Linked DNA regions of Homo sapiens: region 2 is linked to region 1. A link means that fine-mapping ties the variant in region 1 to the expression of a gene that starts in the linked region. Tissue or cell type: left ventricle. Region 1 holds a variant in brackets; the other region holds the start of a gene. All regions are shown on one strand. Distances are from middle to middle.

Evidence for each region. PIP is the estimated chance that this variant, and not a neighbour inherited with it, causes the effect.
Region 2: PLXNA3 starts here. The variant in region 1 is fine-mapped to the expression of PLXNA3 in left ventricle (GTEx, PIP 0.95).

Annotation. Positions count from the first base shown.
Region 1 is chrX:154,819,425-154,827,524 of GRCh38, forward strand. It overlaps SMIM9 (small integral membrane protein 9), which reads right to left. Exons shown (of 5, transcript NM_001162936.4): 5 at 3,924-4,358. The coding sequence ends at 4,331. Among named protein-coding and RNA genes, the nearest start is that of SMIM9, 11 kb to the right of the region's middle. The variant T/C (reference allele first, on the strand shown) is at 5,073.
Region 2 is chrX:154,454,831-154,462,930 of GRCh38, forward strand. It overlaps PLXNA3 (plexin A3), which reads left to right and starts at 3,451. Exons shown (of 33, transcript NM_017514.5): 1 at 3,451-3,598; 2 at 5,327-5,947; 3 at 6,269-6,808; 4 at 7,298-7,480. The coding sequence starts at 5,354. RefSeq lists enhancers at 2,859-2,928, 4,354-4,906 and silencers at 3,019-3,188, 3,319-3,558, 3,799-3,868.

The DNA.
Region 1 (8,100 bases):
TAGCACCTCTGGGAGGGCTCAAAGCTTGGGGTGAGCAGCTCCTATATGTGCTCCCTGGACGAGGCTTTTAAAACTAATTTTGTTGGCAATTCCCTGTAGGGCTACTGCACATCACATGGAGGCAACCCCCAGACACTCCCACTTGGCCTCCAGTCACCCAGGAGCACCTTTTGACTGGGAGGAGCAAAATGCCCTTTCTCTTTGGGGTTGAGGAAACTCAGTCTCTCATTTATCTATGAAAGTGACAGTGCAGTTCCTCATGCAAATATGCAGACAAGCCAATGGAGATTAATTTGGGCAGGAAAGGCAATGGAGAAGACTCTTTAAAATGCACCTCTGAATTAGAATTGAGATCCTAAACAACCTCCTAGGAGGAAAAAAGCCCAGCCAAGACCACTTTCTGTAAACTGTCCTCGGCCACCTTTAACTGTAGCTCTTGTCTGCTATTACACATGCCAAGGTCAAATCCTCTCACAGGACAAGGTAATCTCTGGTACCCCTGATACAGGACTTAAGAAGAAATCACTTAGGCAGACAGTAAGGGTATGGGGATCCTCAGTAAAGTTTTTCTTTTTAATGAAAAGCAGCCTCAAATGATTTTCTAACAAAGAGCAGCCTGTAAAGTTCAGCTGCAGACATAGAGAGGCAAGATGGCTCCAATCAACTGGAAAGTCCATTTGCATAATAATATTCAGCTGGGGCCACCAGCCTTCCCCCGCACTATGTAAACGTCATACCTGATCGAACCAATCTGTCAGCCCTATGTAAATCAGACACCACCTCCTCAAACCTGACTAAAATTTGGCGCATCCACCACCCGCTGGTCCTTTCCACCGGGAGACCCCTTTCTCTATAGAGAAAGCTGCTTCTCTTTCTCTTCTCTTCTGCTCATTAAACCTCTGCTCCTAGACTTGTGTGTGTCCATGTCCTAAATTTTCCTGGTGCATGACAACGAACCCCAGGGTGTATACCCCAGACAATGTAGCCACTTCACCCCCAGAAGCCAAAGAGGTCAGGTAATGCAATACAGGAGAGCAGAGCTTTACACCTAAGAAGAATCTGCCCATGACTCTTGAAACTCCACAAAGAAAACAGAACAGCCCCAAAGGAGTGAACGGTGCCTTTGTCCTGAGTTCTTTAAAGGGTTAGAGTCATTAGATGCCTTCTTTATATTCTTCTTGGTACCAAAGATGGCGAGGGGAGAAGGAGGAATAGGGTGGAAGAAAAGTAAACGAAAGAACAGTTATTTTTTTAAGACAGGGAGCAAACACACAAACCAACTGCATGTTTGGTCATTTTTTTCTCTTTTGCAGCTGCGAGGAATTTTAGCCAATTCAGAGATACCTTGTTACTCACTATTTGGAATTCTCATTCAAATTTGACCAAGTCAGGTAGAATTGGCCAAATCTGATGGGAGAAAGACTGGAACAAACAACAAAAGAACCCCAACAATATGATTACTGAGTCCTCTAATGGTAAGGAGAAATTAAGACCAGCCGACTGTGAATCATAACTTTAGCCAAGAGAAAACTCCAATTCAGCTACTTACCTAGGAGTGGGTCTCAGGCTGAAGACTGCTCTCTACCATCCCAGAAGTAGGAAAAAACTCAAACTCACCTTCCCTGTTGGAAGTGAGCTCAAATTCCAGAATGCAGTTATTTGCCTTTCATTGTCATGGAAGCAGGAAAACTTGCCTTCCTTGTTGGAAGCAAGCAAAACTCCAGAAAAGGAGTTGTACAGCAAAATAAACTTTAGATCTCAACCAAATTTTGGGAGATGAGGGATTCTCTGGAGGGAGGGGAGCTCCCAGGCCTCAGCAAATTGTTCTATTGGTTTGAGCCATAAAGATAGCTCGAGTTGGTACCAAGTACTGATAGGAGATTTGTCAAAGGTCAGGGCCACCTCCACTCAGAGTCTCTTTGTGGTCACCAAATGTGTACCTCAAATATCTCAGACAGGTCTCAGTGAATTTAGAAAGTTTATTTTGCCAAGGTTAAGGACATGCCCATGACACAGCCTTAGGAGGTCCTGATGCCATGTGCCCAAGGCTTGGTTTTATACATTTTAGGGAGACATGAGACATCAATCAATATATGTAAGATATGCAATGGTTTGGTCCAGAAAGGTGGGACAACTTGAAGTGGGGAGGGGGCTTCCAGGTCATAGTTAGATAAGAGAAAAATGGTTGCATTCTTTTGAGTTGCTGATTAGCCTTTCACTGAATACACAATTTACATGTGAGAGCAGGAAGAGTCACTTATGCTTTAGTCTGACTTTGTGAAACAATAGGGCAAAGGAAGCAATCAGATATGCATTTGTCTCATGTGAGCAGAGGGATGACTTTGAGTTCTGCCTGTCCTTTGTTTACAAGGAATTTCTTCATGGGCAAATTGTGAGGAAGGTATGTAGCTTTAAAAAAAAATCTTTGTAGTTATCTTATTTAGGAATAGAATAGGAGGCAGGTTTGCCCAATGCACTTCCCAGCTTGACTTTTCCCTTTCGCTTGGTCATTTGGGGGCGATTTATTTTCCTTTCATGGGGTCAATCCATCAAGAAGACATAACAACTGTAAATATATATATGTATGTACCCAACATTGGAGCAGCTAAATATATAAAGCAAATATTTACAGAAGACAAGGGAGAAATTGACAGCAACACGGGGACTTCAACACCCCATTCTCAACAGTGGACGCATCATCCAGAAAGACAGTCAAAAAGGAAACATTGGACTTAAGCAAAACTCCAAGTCTTTTCTGAGTTCACCTTGGCTTGCCACAGCAGGCCACATGACAGGCCATGTGGCAGCCCACTGGATCTCACCTCAGCATCAATTAGAATTTCACTTCAGTTTTTCTTTCTCTTTGCATTTTCTCTGTAGTAAATTCCTAACCTCCTGCAGTTTTCTCTAGCTCAATAAATGACAACCCCATTCTTTCATCTGCTTGGGCCAAAAACCTCGGAGGCATGCTTGAAGCCTCACTCTCTCTCTCATCTCATCCAAATCCTAATCAAATCCCATCTGCTCTCCCTTCACATCCCTCCTCCGATCTAAACCTTCTGTTGGCCCCCACTATGGCCCCCAGGAAGAGCCTAAATCCTTTCAATGGCTCACAATATCTACTCTGCCCCTCGCTTAATCTGGTTTCTCTGAATCTTCACATTAGCATGGTGGCTCCACAAGAGCTGGGGTTAGATAGCACCATTGCACTCCAGCCTGGGTGACAGAGCAAGACCCCGTCTGTTTGTTACCTGTTCAGTGTCTGGCTCACAGTAGGTGATCAACAAGTGTCTGTTGAATGAATGATTTCAAACTCAGAACAGCAAAAAGGAAAAGCAAATTAATATATATTTTTTTGTGACGGGGTCTTGCTCTATCACCCAGGCTGGAGTGCAATGGCACTATCTCAGCTCACTGCAGCCTCCACCTCCCGGATTCTAGCAAGTCTCCCACCTCAGCCTCCTGGGTAGCTGGGATCACAGGGGCTCACCACCATGGCCAGCTAATTTTTGCATTTTTAGTAGAGATGGGGTTTCACCATGTTGGCCAGGCTGGTCTCGAACTCCTGACCTCAGGTGATCCACCCGCCTCGGCCTCCCAAAATGTTGGGATTACAGGCATGAGCCACCGCACCCAGCCAATAATTTTTAATAATATTACCTGTATTACATTTATAATAGTCAATAAATAGAAATACCTTAAATAATTATTATATGGAGAGGTCATTAAATGACTTATGTCATCTCCACTACATTAAAAAAAAAAGCTCATGTTTAAATTAGTTTGGGAAATGCTATATATTATACTCCCTTGTGGAGATTAGTATTAGCCTGTTAAAAGTTCTTAGAAGTCCTTGAGCAAAGAAAGATAGCTTTAAATTTGTTTAATCCAGCATTTCCCAAACATAACTGACCACAGGGCCCTCACTGTTTTGTGACTTTTATTAAAACAGAACTATTGTTTCACAGAACAGACTTTGGAAAACTTGTAATACATATATAGAAAAAAATTGAAGGGAGGTACATCAAGATGTTAATGATGTTTATTTCTGGTTGCTAGAATTATGGAAACTTACTCTTTTCTCTGTATTTCTCAAATTTTTTTTGCAATAAATATGTATTACTATTATAACCAAAACAGTAATAAGGATATTCACATTTTAAAATTGCAACTTTTGAAGGAGAAAATGAAGGCAAAGGATGATTCAAGTTGGAAGACGATTTAATTTCAACTGATAGATACTTCCTCATTTTAAGCAGATAGCAAATGCCCCACTCTTTTGGAGTCCAACTGGAGAGACCACACTTGCCCTGTTGAATCTTCTAGTTCTTCAGTGGACTGGATCAACTACAAGAATGCTGGGAAAGGAAGATAAAATGGTGAATGCTCTGCACAGAGTTGCTATATAATTATATAACCTTTTCAAAGATTGGATTTGACACCAGTTTTTCTCTTAATATGAACCAAATAATTCCATACAAACAAAATACTTTGATGAAAAAGCAGAATAAGAATGTGTTTCCAGTACAGTGGGGCTTGGAGGTAGTGGTATAAGTATGGTTAGGTAGTTTTTCTTCTTTTGTTTTTAAAGTATCTTTTTAAAAATGAACTGATCAAACAATACAGCTCATTGTAGAAAGATCAGAAAGTGGGCCGGGCGCGGTGGCTCACACCTGTAATTCCAGCACTTTGGGAGGCCGAGGCAGGCAGATCACGAGGTCAGGAGATCGAGACCATTCTGGCTAACAGGGTGAAACCCCGTCTCTACTAAAAATACAAAAAATTAGCCTGGCGTGGTGGCGGGCGCCTGTAGTCCCAGCTACTCGGGAGGCTGAGGCAGGAGAATGGCGTGAACCCGGAGGCGGAGCTTGCAGTGAGCCGAGATCACGCCACTGCACTCCAGCCTGGGCGACAGAGCGAGACTCCGTCTCAAAAAAAAAAAAAAAAAAAAAGAAAAAGAAAAAAAAGAAAGATCAGAAAGTGCAATTAGACAGGAAAAACAAAAGTTAACACCACCGCCAATAGTAATAAAACAACCTATTCACTACCACAAGGAGATAACCAATGTCTAA[T/C]ACTTGGGTTAGGTTCTTAGAGGCTTTCCCCCTATACAATTAGTTTTTAATAAGAAATTAGACTAAACTATATATCTTCTGTTATAATCTGCTTTTTCCACTCAATGATATTTCATGAATATGTTTCTGTGTAATTATCCTTAGTACTCAGTGTATGAATGTGCAATACTTTCTTTAGCTAGCCCCAGACTGATGGACATTTAAGTTTCCATTTCTTCACTATCGTAAACCATACTAAAAATTCCTTGTACACATATCTTTGTGGACTTGTTAGAGCCTGTCAGTCCTCCTGATTTCCACCTCTGCTTCTGGAATGCTGGGAGATTAGCCAAGCTTCCATGTGCCTCAGGTAATAAGCAGCTAGCTTAAGCCTTCATTACAGCTGCAGCTAATGGTATACACAGGTGAGTATAGAGGAGGAAGAATGAGGCACAGAGAGGCTGTGTGCAATCCTCACTGTGAAATGTCTTAATTAAAAATCAACAAGTATTACTGAGAGTCTACTATGTGCCCAGTAGCAAGTCCCAATTTTTCCTGGGACTTGATGTGTCCTTTATGACCACAGACTCCAGTCTTCTTTAATTTCTGCAACACTTAAAAAATTATAACTTGGCTGGGCGCGGTGACTCACGCCTGTAATCCCAGCACTTTGGGAGGCCGAGGCGGGTGGATCACGAGATCAGGAGTTCAAGACCAGCCTGACCAACATGGTGAAACCCCGTCTCTACAAAAAATACAAAAATCAGCTGGCTGGGCGTGGTGACGCGTGCCTGTAATCCCAGCTACTCAGGAGGCTGAGGCAGGAGAATCGATTCAACCCGGGAAGCAGAGGTTGCAGTGAGCCGAGATGGTGCCACTGCACTCCAGCCTGGGTGACAGACTGAGACTTCACCTCAAAAAAAAAAAAAAAAAGTCAGGAAACAACAGGTGCTGGAGAGGATGTGGAGAAATAGGAACACTTTTACACTGTTGGTGGGACTGTAAACTAGTTCAACCATTGTGGAAATCGGTGTGGCGATTCCTCAGGGATCTAGAACTAGAAATACCATTTGACCCAGCCATCCCATTACTGGGTATATACCCAAATGATTATAAATCATGCTGCTATAAAGACACATGCACACGTATGTTTATTGCGGCACTATTCACAATAGCAAAGACTTGGAACCAACCCAAATGTCCATCAATGATAGACTGGATTAAGAAAATGTGGCACATATACACCATGGAATACTATGCAGCCATAAAAAAGGATGAGTTCATGTCCTTTGTAGGGACATGGATGAAGCTGGAAACCATCATTCTCAGCAAACTATCGCAAGGACAAAAAACCAAACACCACATGTTCTCACTCATAGCTGGGAATTGAACAATGAGAACACATGGACACAGGAAGGGGAACATCACACTCTGGGGACTGTTGTGGGGTGGAGGGAGGGGGGAGGGATAGCATTAGGAGATATACCTAATGCTAAATGACCAGTTAATGGGTGCAGCACACCAACATGGCACATGTATACATATGTAACAAACCTGCACGTTGTGCACATGTACCCTAAAACTTAAAGTATAGTAACAATAAAAAAAAAAGAAAAAAGAAAAAGAAAAAATTATAACTTTTTCTTCTGTTGGATTATTTTGGTTCTCTTCATCGAAGAAATCATTCTGTGCCTCCTGCATCTACCATTTCTTCTCTAATCTTACTTTCACCAAACTGTTTACTTAATACTGCTTGCCTATATAATCCTATTTTCCATATTTTCTTTCATATTTTGCACCAATGTCTCTTTTTCTTCATGCTTCCTCATTTTGGTGATAGTTTTACTTTTTGTCTTTTACATTTTTCTTGGGATTTTCCAACTAATTTTCATCTTCTTCTTTTGTTTTGGTATACCTTATCTGCCCTGTTGTATTTCTGCATATAGCATTTACTATTATTATTATTGAGATGAGGTCTTGCTATGTTCCTAGGCTGGTCTCAAACTCCTGGCCTTAAGCAATCCTCCTGCCTCAGCCTCTGAAAATGCTGGGATTACAGGCATGTGCCACCATGCCCGACCTTAGCTATTATTTTATATTTTGTATCAAATGTTTTGAATTTATGGCAATATGTTAGTACATGGTTTTTATCTGCCCTGAGATATTTTTCTAGTGAGTATTCCTCATCTGCCATTTCTTGCTTATACGTTTCTTGTGTTTTCCATATAGTAACTCTGCATAGATCTGGTGCTGTTTCCTGTTGAATGAGGTAAACTCTTACTGGACCAGTTATTTACAGGAGATGTGCACAAGTCCAGAGCTATACTTTGGACTAACAAATTCTCTTCATGATGCTGAGGTATGTGTGAGCTCTTGTAGCCTTTACTTCTTTCCAGTCAAGTGAGAGCAGCAGATGTAGGTCTGAGCATAAAGAAGTTTCAGACTTTACCTTCTTGCCTCAACAAACTGCTTCTTAAAAATATGGCTTGCCTATATGCTTATTCATTCCAATTTACCTGTTAGGCTTCTACTTGGTGCCCAACTGGGTCCAGAAATGTTTCTTTCACTAGTTAGCTTGCTTGTTCCCAGCAAGGGCTTATTGGCTTTTCTATTCAGGTTAAGCCATCTACTTCAAAGAAGGAATTCTTTTTCTTGGCATATTGCCTGCTTTATCTTCACAGAAGTCCCTCTGAATATTAATTAACCAATACTTCAGATGCTTTTGATGCAGCTGACCTGCTGACCACAGTTTGAGTAACAATGACTTCAAAGATGTGGAACCAGACATATCTTGATTTGAGTTCCAGCTCCCTTGGTTGGTTGCTAGGTATACTAGTCAGGGATATTCAGCTGCTATAACAAACAATCCTGAGATCTTAGTAGCTTAACACAATAAAATTGATCCTTCACTCATGCCTCATTCTGATGTAAGTTAAGTTCTCCTCCACAAGGTGATTCAGGGATCCCAGCTCCTTCCATCATGTGGTTTCACCATCTTAGAGTCCTTCAGTTGAAGCCCTGCATATGTGAAAGAGAGAGGCAGCATGGA
Region 2 (8,100 bases), 360 kb before region 1:
TGCAGAGCTGTCAAGACAGACATGGCTGATGCTCTGGAACTAGAAAGATCGCCAAGGGAATCAAAGGGTAACACCTGCTCGTCTGGTCAAGCCAATGGATGAGATGACAAAGATGGGACTAAGGCCAGGCACAGTGGCTCACGCCTGTAATCCCAGCACTTTGGGAGGCCTAGGCAGGTGGATTGTTTGAGCCCAGGAGTTCGAGACCAGCTGGGCAACATAGTGAGACTCTGTGTGTATAGCAAATACAAAGATTAGCTGGGTGTGGTGGCACACGCCTGTAGTCCCAGCTACTTGGGAGGCTTAGGTGGGCGGATCACTTGAGCCCAGGAGGTGGAGACCAGCCTGGGCAACACGGTGAAACCCTGTCTCTACAAAAAATTCAAAAATTAGCCTGGCGTGGTGGCATGCACCTGTAGTCCTAGCTACTTGGGAGGCTGAGGTGGGAAGATTGCTTGAGCCTGGGAAGACGAGGCTGCAGTGAGTGGTGTTCATACCACTGCACTCCAGCCTGGGTGACAAAGTGAGACATTGTCTCCAAAAAGATCATTATACAAAAATCAATTTTTAAAAGTTTTTTGAGATAGAGTCTTGCTCTCTGTTGCCTAGGCTGGAGTGCAATGGCATGATCTTGGCTCACTGCAACCTCTGCCTCTTGGGTTCAAGCGATTGCCCCCCTCCTCAGCCTCCCAAGTAACTGGGATTACAGGTGCCCGCCACCATGCCTGGCCAATTTTCGTATTTTTAGTAGAGACGGGGTTTTGTCATCTTGGCCAGGCTGGTCTCGAATTCCTGATCTCAAGTGATCCGCCCACCTCTGCCTCCCAAAGTGCTTGAATTGCAGGCATGAGCCACCACACCTGGCCAATCAATTGTATTTCTATACACAATCCAAAATGAAATTAAGAAAATAATTCCATTTATAACAGTGTCAAAAAAGAATAAAATACTTATTAATAGATTTTTTTAAAAGAAGCATGAGATTTGTACACTGAAAAGTACAAAACATCATTGAAAGAAATTCAAGAAGACCTAAATAAATGGAAAGACATCTGTATTAGTCATGGTTCTCCAGAGAAACAGAACCAACAGGACACACACACACACAGTTTATTTTAAGGATTTGGTTCACCCAATTGTCGGGGCTGACAAGTTGGTGTGAAATTTGTAGGACAGACTGACGGGCTGGAAACTCGGAGAATTTCTGTGTTACAGTCTTGTTGTTGTTGTTGTTGAGATGGAGTCTCACTCTTGTCGCCCAGGCTGGAGTGCAGTGGCATGATATCAGCTCACTGCAACCACTGCCTCCTGGGTTCAAGCGATTCTCCTGCCTCAGCTTCCCGAGTAGCTGGGATTACAGATGCCCGCCACCATGCCCAACTAATTTTTGTATTTTTAGTAGAGACGGGGTTTCATCACGTTGGTCAGGCTGGTCTCGAACTCCTGACCTCAGGCGATCCGCCTGCCTTGGCCTCCCAAAGTGCTGGGATGACAGACATGAGCCACCGCGCCTGGCCTGTGTTACAGTCTTGAGGCAGAATTTCTGCTTCTCCAGGAAACCTCGGGTTTTGCTCTTAAAGCCATCCAACTAAATGGATGAGGCCCACACACATTATCAAGGGTGATCTCTTTTACTTAAAGTCAGTTGAGGGCCAGGCATGGTGGCTCATGCCTATAATCTCAGTGCTTTTTTTTTTTTAGACAGAGTCTTGCTCTATCTCCCAGGCTGGAGTGCAATGGCACGATCTTGGCTCACTGCAACCTCCCCCTCCCAGGTTCAAGAGATTCTCGGCCGGGCGCGGTGGCTCACGCCTGTAATCCCAGCACTTTGGGAGGCCGAGATGGGCGGATCACAAGGTCAGGAGATCGAGACCATCCTGGCTAACACGGTGAAACCTCGTCTCTACCAAAAATACAAAAAAATTAGCCGGGCGTGGTGGCGAGTGCCTGTAGTCCCAGCTACTTGGGAGGCTGAGACAGGAGAATGGCGTGAACCCGGGAGGCGGAGCTTGCAGTGAGCCGAGGTCACACCACTGCACTCCAGCCTTGGCGACAGAGCAAGACTTTGTCTAAAAAAAAAAAAAAAAAAAAAAAAAATTCTCCTGCTTCAGCCTCCTGAGTAGCTGGGACTACAGGCATATGACACCATGTCCGGCTAATTTTTGTATTTTTTGTAGAGATGGGGTTTTGCCATGTTGGCCAGGCTGGTCTCGAACTCCTGACCTCAGGTGATCCGCTCACTTCAGCCTTCCAAAATGCTGGGATTACAGGCTTGAGTCACTGCACCCAGCATATGCCAGTACTTTGGAAGGCTGAGGCAGGAGGATTACTTAAGCCCAGGAGTTCAAGACTAGCCTGGGCAGTGTAGCAAGACCCTGTCTCTCTCTACAAGAATAGGAAAAGTTAGCCAGGCGTGGTGGCACTTGCCTGTGGTCCCAGCTACCTGGGAGGCTGAGGCAGGAGGATCCCTTGAGCCCAGGAAGTCGAGGCTGCAGTGAGCCATGATCCAATGCCGCTACACTGCAGCCTGGGTGATAGAGCGCGACCTCAACTTGGGGGGAAAAATCTGTCTATCTATCTATCTCTCCATATATGTGTTTAATAAAAATGGGCAAATGACTTGAATAGACATTTCTTCAGAGATCATATACAAAAGGCCAGCAAGCACATGAAAAGATGCTGAACACCATTAGTCATCAGGGAAATGAAAAAGAAAACCTTAACGGGGCGCGGTGGCTCACACCTGTAGTCCCAGCACTTTGGGAGGCTGAGGCGGGAGCATCGTTTGAGCCTGGGGCGGTCGAGGCTGCAGTGAGCTATGATCTCACCACTGCACTCCAGCCCGGGTGACAGAGCGAGACCCTGTGTCAAAAGAAAACAAAAAAAGAAAAGGAAAAAGAAAGCAAGGGAAGGAAGAAAGCCCTCGGTTCAGGGTCGCCGGGGAAGGGGCTGGTTTGGACGGCTGTCCCGCAGGCCCTCCGGGTTAGAGACCGTCGGGGGCGTGTCTTGAGCTGGGGACGCGACTCCTCGGCGGGGGTGCACCTGAGAGGCCGGGACCAGCGAGGCCGCGCCCCGGTGGCAGGTGACCCCGGGCGCGTCTCCGAGCGCCAGGGTGGGGCGAGGCGGACGCGCGCCCCAGGCCCGAGGGGGTGTGGCGCGGGCGCGCGCGGGTTCCGGGGTCGCCCGAGGCGGCGGGCGGGGAGCCGGGGCGCGGGGGAGGCGCGCGCCGCGGACGCGGCCATCGAGCGAAGGGGGTCGGCTGGCCGGGCGGGTCCCCCTTCAGGTCGCGGGGGTCAGGGCTGCGCGCGAGGTCCCTGGCCCCGGGGAGCAGCGGCCCCGCCTGCGTCCCCTGCCGCCGCGTCCCCCTCGGCCGGGCGTCCCCGGACGCCCCCGCCCCGCGCGGTGGTACGGTCCGGGTTTAAAAGGCTCCGGCGGCCCCCGGGCCAGCCCAGTGTGTGGGCGGCGGCGGCGGCGGCTGCGCGCTTGGGGCCCGGGGCGCGGGGCGAGGCCGTGGGGACGTGCGAGCGGGGCCGCGGTGGGGCTCGGGGGCGCGTCCACGTGGCCAGAGGGCGGCCACCCGGAGCCAGCGGAGGGACAGGTAGGTGGCCGTCATCGTCGCCGTCCGTGCGGGGCCAAACAGCTCGGGGCCCGGGGCTCCGGCAGCCCGGGGGTCCGGCTCGGCCTGTGGGGGTCAGGCCCTATCCCTGCCCGTCGGCGCCGGCCTGCCCGACTCCTTGTGCCCCGCATGGTGGGGACGCCAACCCAAGACCAACACCCTGCCCAAAGAGGACCCTTTGTCGCAGGGGAGCGGCCCCTCGGAGGATCAACGCTGTACTTCCCTCCCGCTAAGGGCTCCGCGAGTCCGCCGAGGGGTGCCCTGATGGGGCCCGGGCAAACCGGACCAGCAGCACGGTGGGGGGTGTGGGGGGCGGCCGCTGGACCCCCGTCTCTGCGTGGGGCTGCCCCTTCCTCAGGCTCTCTGCTGGCCCAGCTGTACCTGTGATGCCCGAGGTTGCCACTTACAGGTGGGGGCTGGGCCTGAAACTGCCTCCCCAGGTCTCCCTCCCGACCTGTCCCCAGCCTGTTCCTAGGCTTGTGTTCCCGGGGTGTAGAGGAGGTGAAGACAGGATGTGGCCTCTCTTTTCTTTGGCCTTCCTTTCTTCTCCGGCTGTTGCATGAGGGGTCCAGCTGACAAAAGAGCCCTGGAGAGGTGATCAATCTGAGCTGAAACTTTGCAGTTTCAAGCTGGGCCCGCTGCTTGTTCCTGGCAAATGCCTTATTTTTCCTTTCTCTCTCCTGTGCCTCCTTGGTTTGGTTCCCTGCACCACCCCCCGCTCCCCCCCCGCCTCCCGCCCTCAAGCTGGGTACCTCCTATCTCCCCCGGGAGCTCTGGCACTGAGAGGGTAGCGCTGAGCCCTGCCCTGTTGGCTGCCACGACACTGCTCTGCTGTCTTAGCAGCCTGGGGCTGACTGGGTGTGGCCTGGGGACTAAGTGCCAGTCCCAGCACTGTCCCTGTGGCTCCTGCCCTGTCTCTCCAAGGCCTTGACTGTATTTGGGGACATTGCTCCTCCTCTTGTAAGGCTCCTGGGACTCCAAAGGGCAGGTAGGGCCCCCTGTACATTCCCTTCTCCAGTGAACCCCTGGGTCTGGAGGGGGAGCCATGCAGGCTGTGGCTGAGCAGAGCTTGACTGATGTGTGTCTGGGTGCGTGGCTGAGGGGCAGGCGCGACTTGGCTTTGTGTTGCATCGGGGAGGCCAGACAGCGGGCTCCTGGATGGCCAGCTGAGGCCCTTGTCGGGGAGGCAGCTGGGGCCCCTGCAGGGGACATGGTGGTGCTGGATCCTGCATCAGGCCTCCATTCCCCAGACCTCTGTCCCAGGGCTCCTGGTGGCAGTGCCACTCCAGGTGGTGTTCCTGGCCCTGCCCCTCTCCCCCAGCTTGCGATTATTCTGTGCCTGCCTCCCTCTCCCCTCAGCTCAGGCGTTGGGGGCAGCCCAGAGGCCTGGGGCTTGCTGTTCTTTGCTGTTGGTTGCCCCGGGCTCTGAGATGTGGCATCTGGGGTCCCAGTTCCAGCATCTGCTCTGCTACCCCCTTGGGTGTGGCCCAGCTGAGGCGAGGCCTCCTGGCTCCTTTCCAGCATGGGGGCTGAGGGACGATTGATGGCCCCCAAGCCTGCCCTCGCTGGCTGCTCACTCATGCGCCCTGGCGGAGGCCCCTCCTCTCTCCCTGTCACGGTGGCCATCTGGGGCTTTGGCGGGGTGGTGGGTGAATGGCCCAGCCCTCTGTGGCTCGAGGCCTCTGACTCCCACACACCGTCTCTCCCTAGGCCTGTCCCCAGGCGCGGCTGCCGGCCATGCCCTCTGTCTGCCTCCTCCTGCTGCTCTTCCTTGCCGTGGGGGGGGCCCTGGGCAACAGGCCCTTCCGTGCCTTCGTGGTGACAGACACCACGCTTACCCACCTGGCTGTGCACCGGGTGACTGGGGAGGTGTTCGTGGGCGCAGTGAACCGAGTCTTTAAGCTGGCCCCCAACCTGACTGAGCTGCGGGCCCATGTCACGGGGCCCGTCGAGGACAACGCTCGCTGCTACCCGCCCCCCAGCATGCGCGTGTGTGCCCACCGCCTGGCCCCCGTGGACAACATCAACAAGCTGCTGCTCATAGACTATGCGGCCCGCCGCCTGGTGGCCTGCGGCAGCATCTGGCAGGGCATCTGCCAGTTCCTGCGTCTGGACGACCTCTTCAAGCTGGGTGAGCCGCACCACCGCAAGGAGCACTACCTGTCGGGGGCCCAGGAGCCCGACTCCATGGCTGGTGTCATTGTGGAGCAGGGCCAGGGGCCCAGCAAGCTGTTTGTGGGCACTGCTGTCGACGGCAAGTCGGAGTACTTCCCCACCTTGAGCTCCCGCAAGCTCATCAGTGATGAAGACAGCGCGGACATGTTCAGTCTCGTGCGTGAGCCTTCCTTCTCTTCTTCCTCCACCCAGTCCTGGCTCTGCCTCCCAGAAGAGCCCTGTTCTTTCTGAGAGGGGACTTTCGGCTCCTCAGTGTCTGGGATGCAGACAGGTTGCGGAGGGTGGGATGACAGCCTGAACCCAGGTTGCGGGGGTCCCCTGTGTGCAGGGAGGCTGGTCACCCTGCCCTCTGCAGCCTTTCTGGCCTGGGCCTCTGTGATCATCCAGGCGGGAGGGGGATGCAGAGGGAAGCTGGCGGTGGCCCGTGATGTTGGCACAGGGCCTCACCGGATGCTGTCTCCTCCCCCTGCTCCCCAGGTGTACCAGGATGAGTTTGTGTCCTCCCAGATCAAGATCCCCTCAGACACGCTGTCCTTGTACCCTGCCTTTGACATCTACTACATCTACGGCTTCGTCAGCGCCTCCTTCGTGTACTTCCTGACGCTGCAGCTGGACACCCAGCAGACGCTGTTGGACACAGCGGGCGAGAAATTTTTCACGTCCAAGATCGTGCGCATGTGCGCGGGAGACTCAGAGTTCTACTCATACGTGGAATTCCCCATCGGCTGCTCCTGGCGCGGCGTGGAGTACCGCTTGGTGCAGAGCGCCCACCTGGCCAAGCCTGGCCTGCTGCTGGCCCAGGCCCTGGGCGTGCCGGCTGATGAGGACGTCCTCTTCACCATCTTCTCTCAGGGCCAGAAGAACCGGGCCAGCCCACCCCGGCAGACCATCCTCTGCCTCTTCACCCTCAGCAACATCAATGCCCACATCCGGCGCCGCATCCAGTCCTGCTATCGTGGGGAGGGCACTCTGGCTCTGCCCTGGCTGCTGAACAAGGAGCTGCCCTGCATCAACACCGTGAGCCCCTCATCACCCCACACTGGTCCTCTGCCCTGTCCCAGGTCTACCATGCCCAGCGTGGGCTCACGGCCAGTCATCCTGTCCCAGGCTTTGCCATGGCCCTGGGAGTGGCACCTTTGCCCTCCCACCTGTTTCTCCCTCCCAGGGGTCCCTGCCCTCTCCTTGCCTCTCTCTGGGCTGCCCAGTGCCCCACTTCTGCTTCCTTCCGTTCCCAGCTCGTTCCTCCTTGCTCCGTCTCCCGGTTGCCCCTTGTCTTGAGCCAACAAGAGTCTTGTGGGCCCAGGCTTCGCTCCTCGCTCCCTGCTGTCCCTCCTCTGTCTCCCTCCGCAGCCACCAATTTCCTGGAGCACCCTAGGGCGAGCAGTCAGTCCTGGCTGGAGGGGACCGGGTTCTAGATCCCGCTCTCTTCTGGGACACAGGAACTGCCGGCCTCCATCTTGCGCCTGGGAGCTTTGACTCTCACGGGTTCCTCCTCTGTTTCACCAGCCCATGCAGATCAACGGCAACTTCTGTGGGCTGGTGTTGAACCAGCCTCTGGGAGGCCTGCATGTGATCGAGGGGCTGCCCCTGCTGGCCGACAGCACCGACGGCATGGCCAGCGTGGCCGCCTACACCTACCGCCAGCACTCTGTGGTCTTCATTGGCACGCGCAGCGGCAGCTTGAAGAAGGTGGCCCCCAGAGCCCTGGGCATGTGGGGGTGGGGACAGTCTCAGATATGGGACAAGGCTGGTGGGAACACACGGGAGAGCTCTGAGGACAGGACAGGAGAGGACACGGCTGGTGCAGGGAGGGAGATTTCCCTGGCTGGGTCCCAGGCGCCTGGCCCTGCTCCTCGGGTCGCCCCTTGGCCGCCCACCCTCACCATTGCCAGTTCCCACTGTGGACTGAATTGCCAGCTTCGTATGGCTCTGGGGACAGAGAACAGACCTATTGTGGAGTCTCCCTGCCACGAGAGCAGGCCTGGGGCTGAGCCAGCATTGCTGGGTCCTCTGTTGAATGAACAAGGGAGCAAATGCCTTGCCCCTCAAGCCTCCCTATGCCTGGGACAGACCCACTTGCCCCTGCCCTCTCCTTGGCTCACTACTTCCCATCCTTCCCCTCCTACCCATGGGCCCGGGGGCTGAAGCTGCTTCCATTGGGGATCTGGGGGTAGCTTGGCATGAAGGGGGAGATGAACTTCTGGGCACTCAGGTACGTGTTGAATAGGTAGGAGTCGGGGGACTGCAGTGCTCTCATCCTGCTTGCCTCGTAGATGCAGTGCCATCCCCCAGGAGGGCAAGTGTTGGTC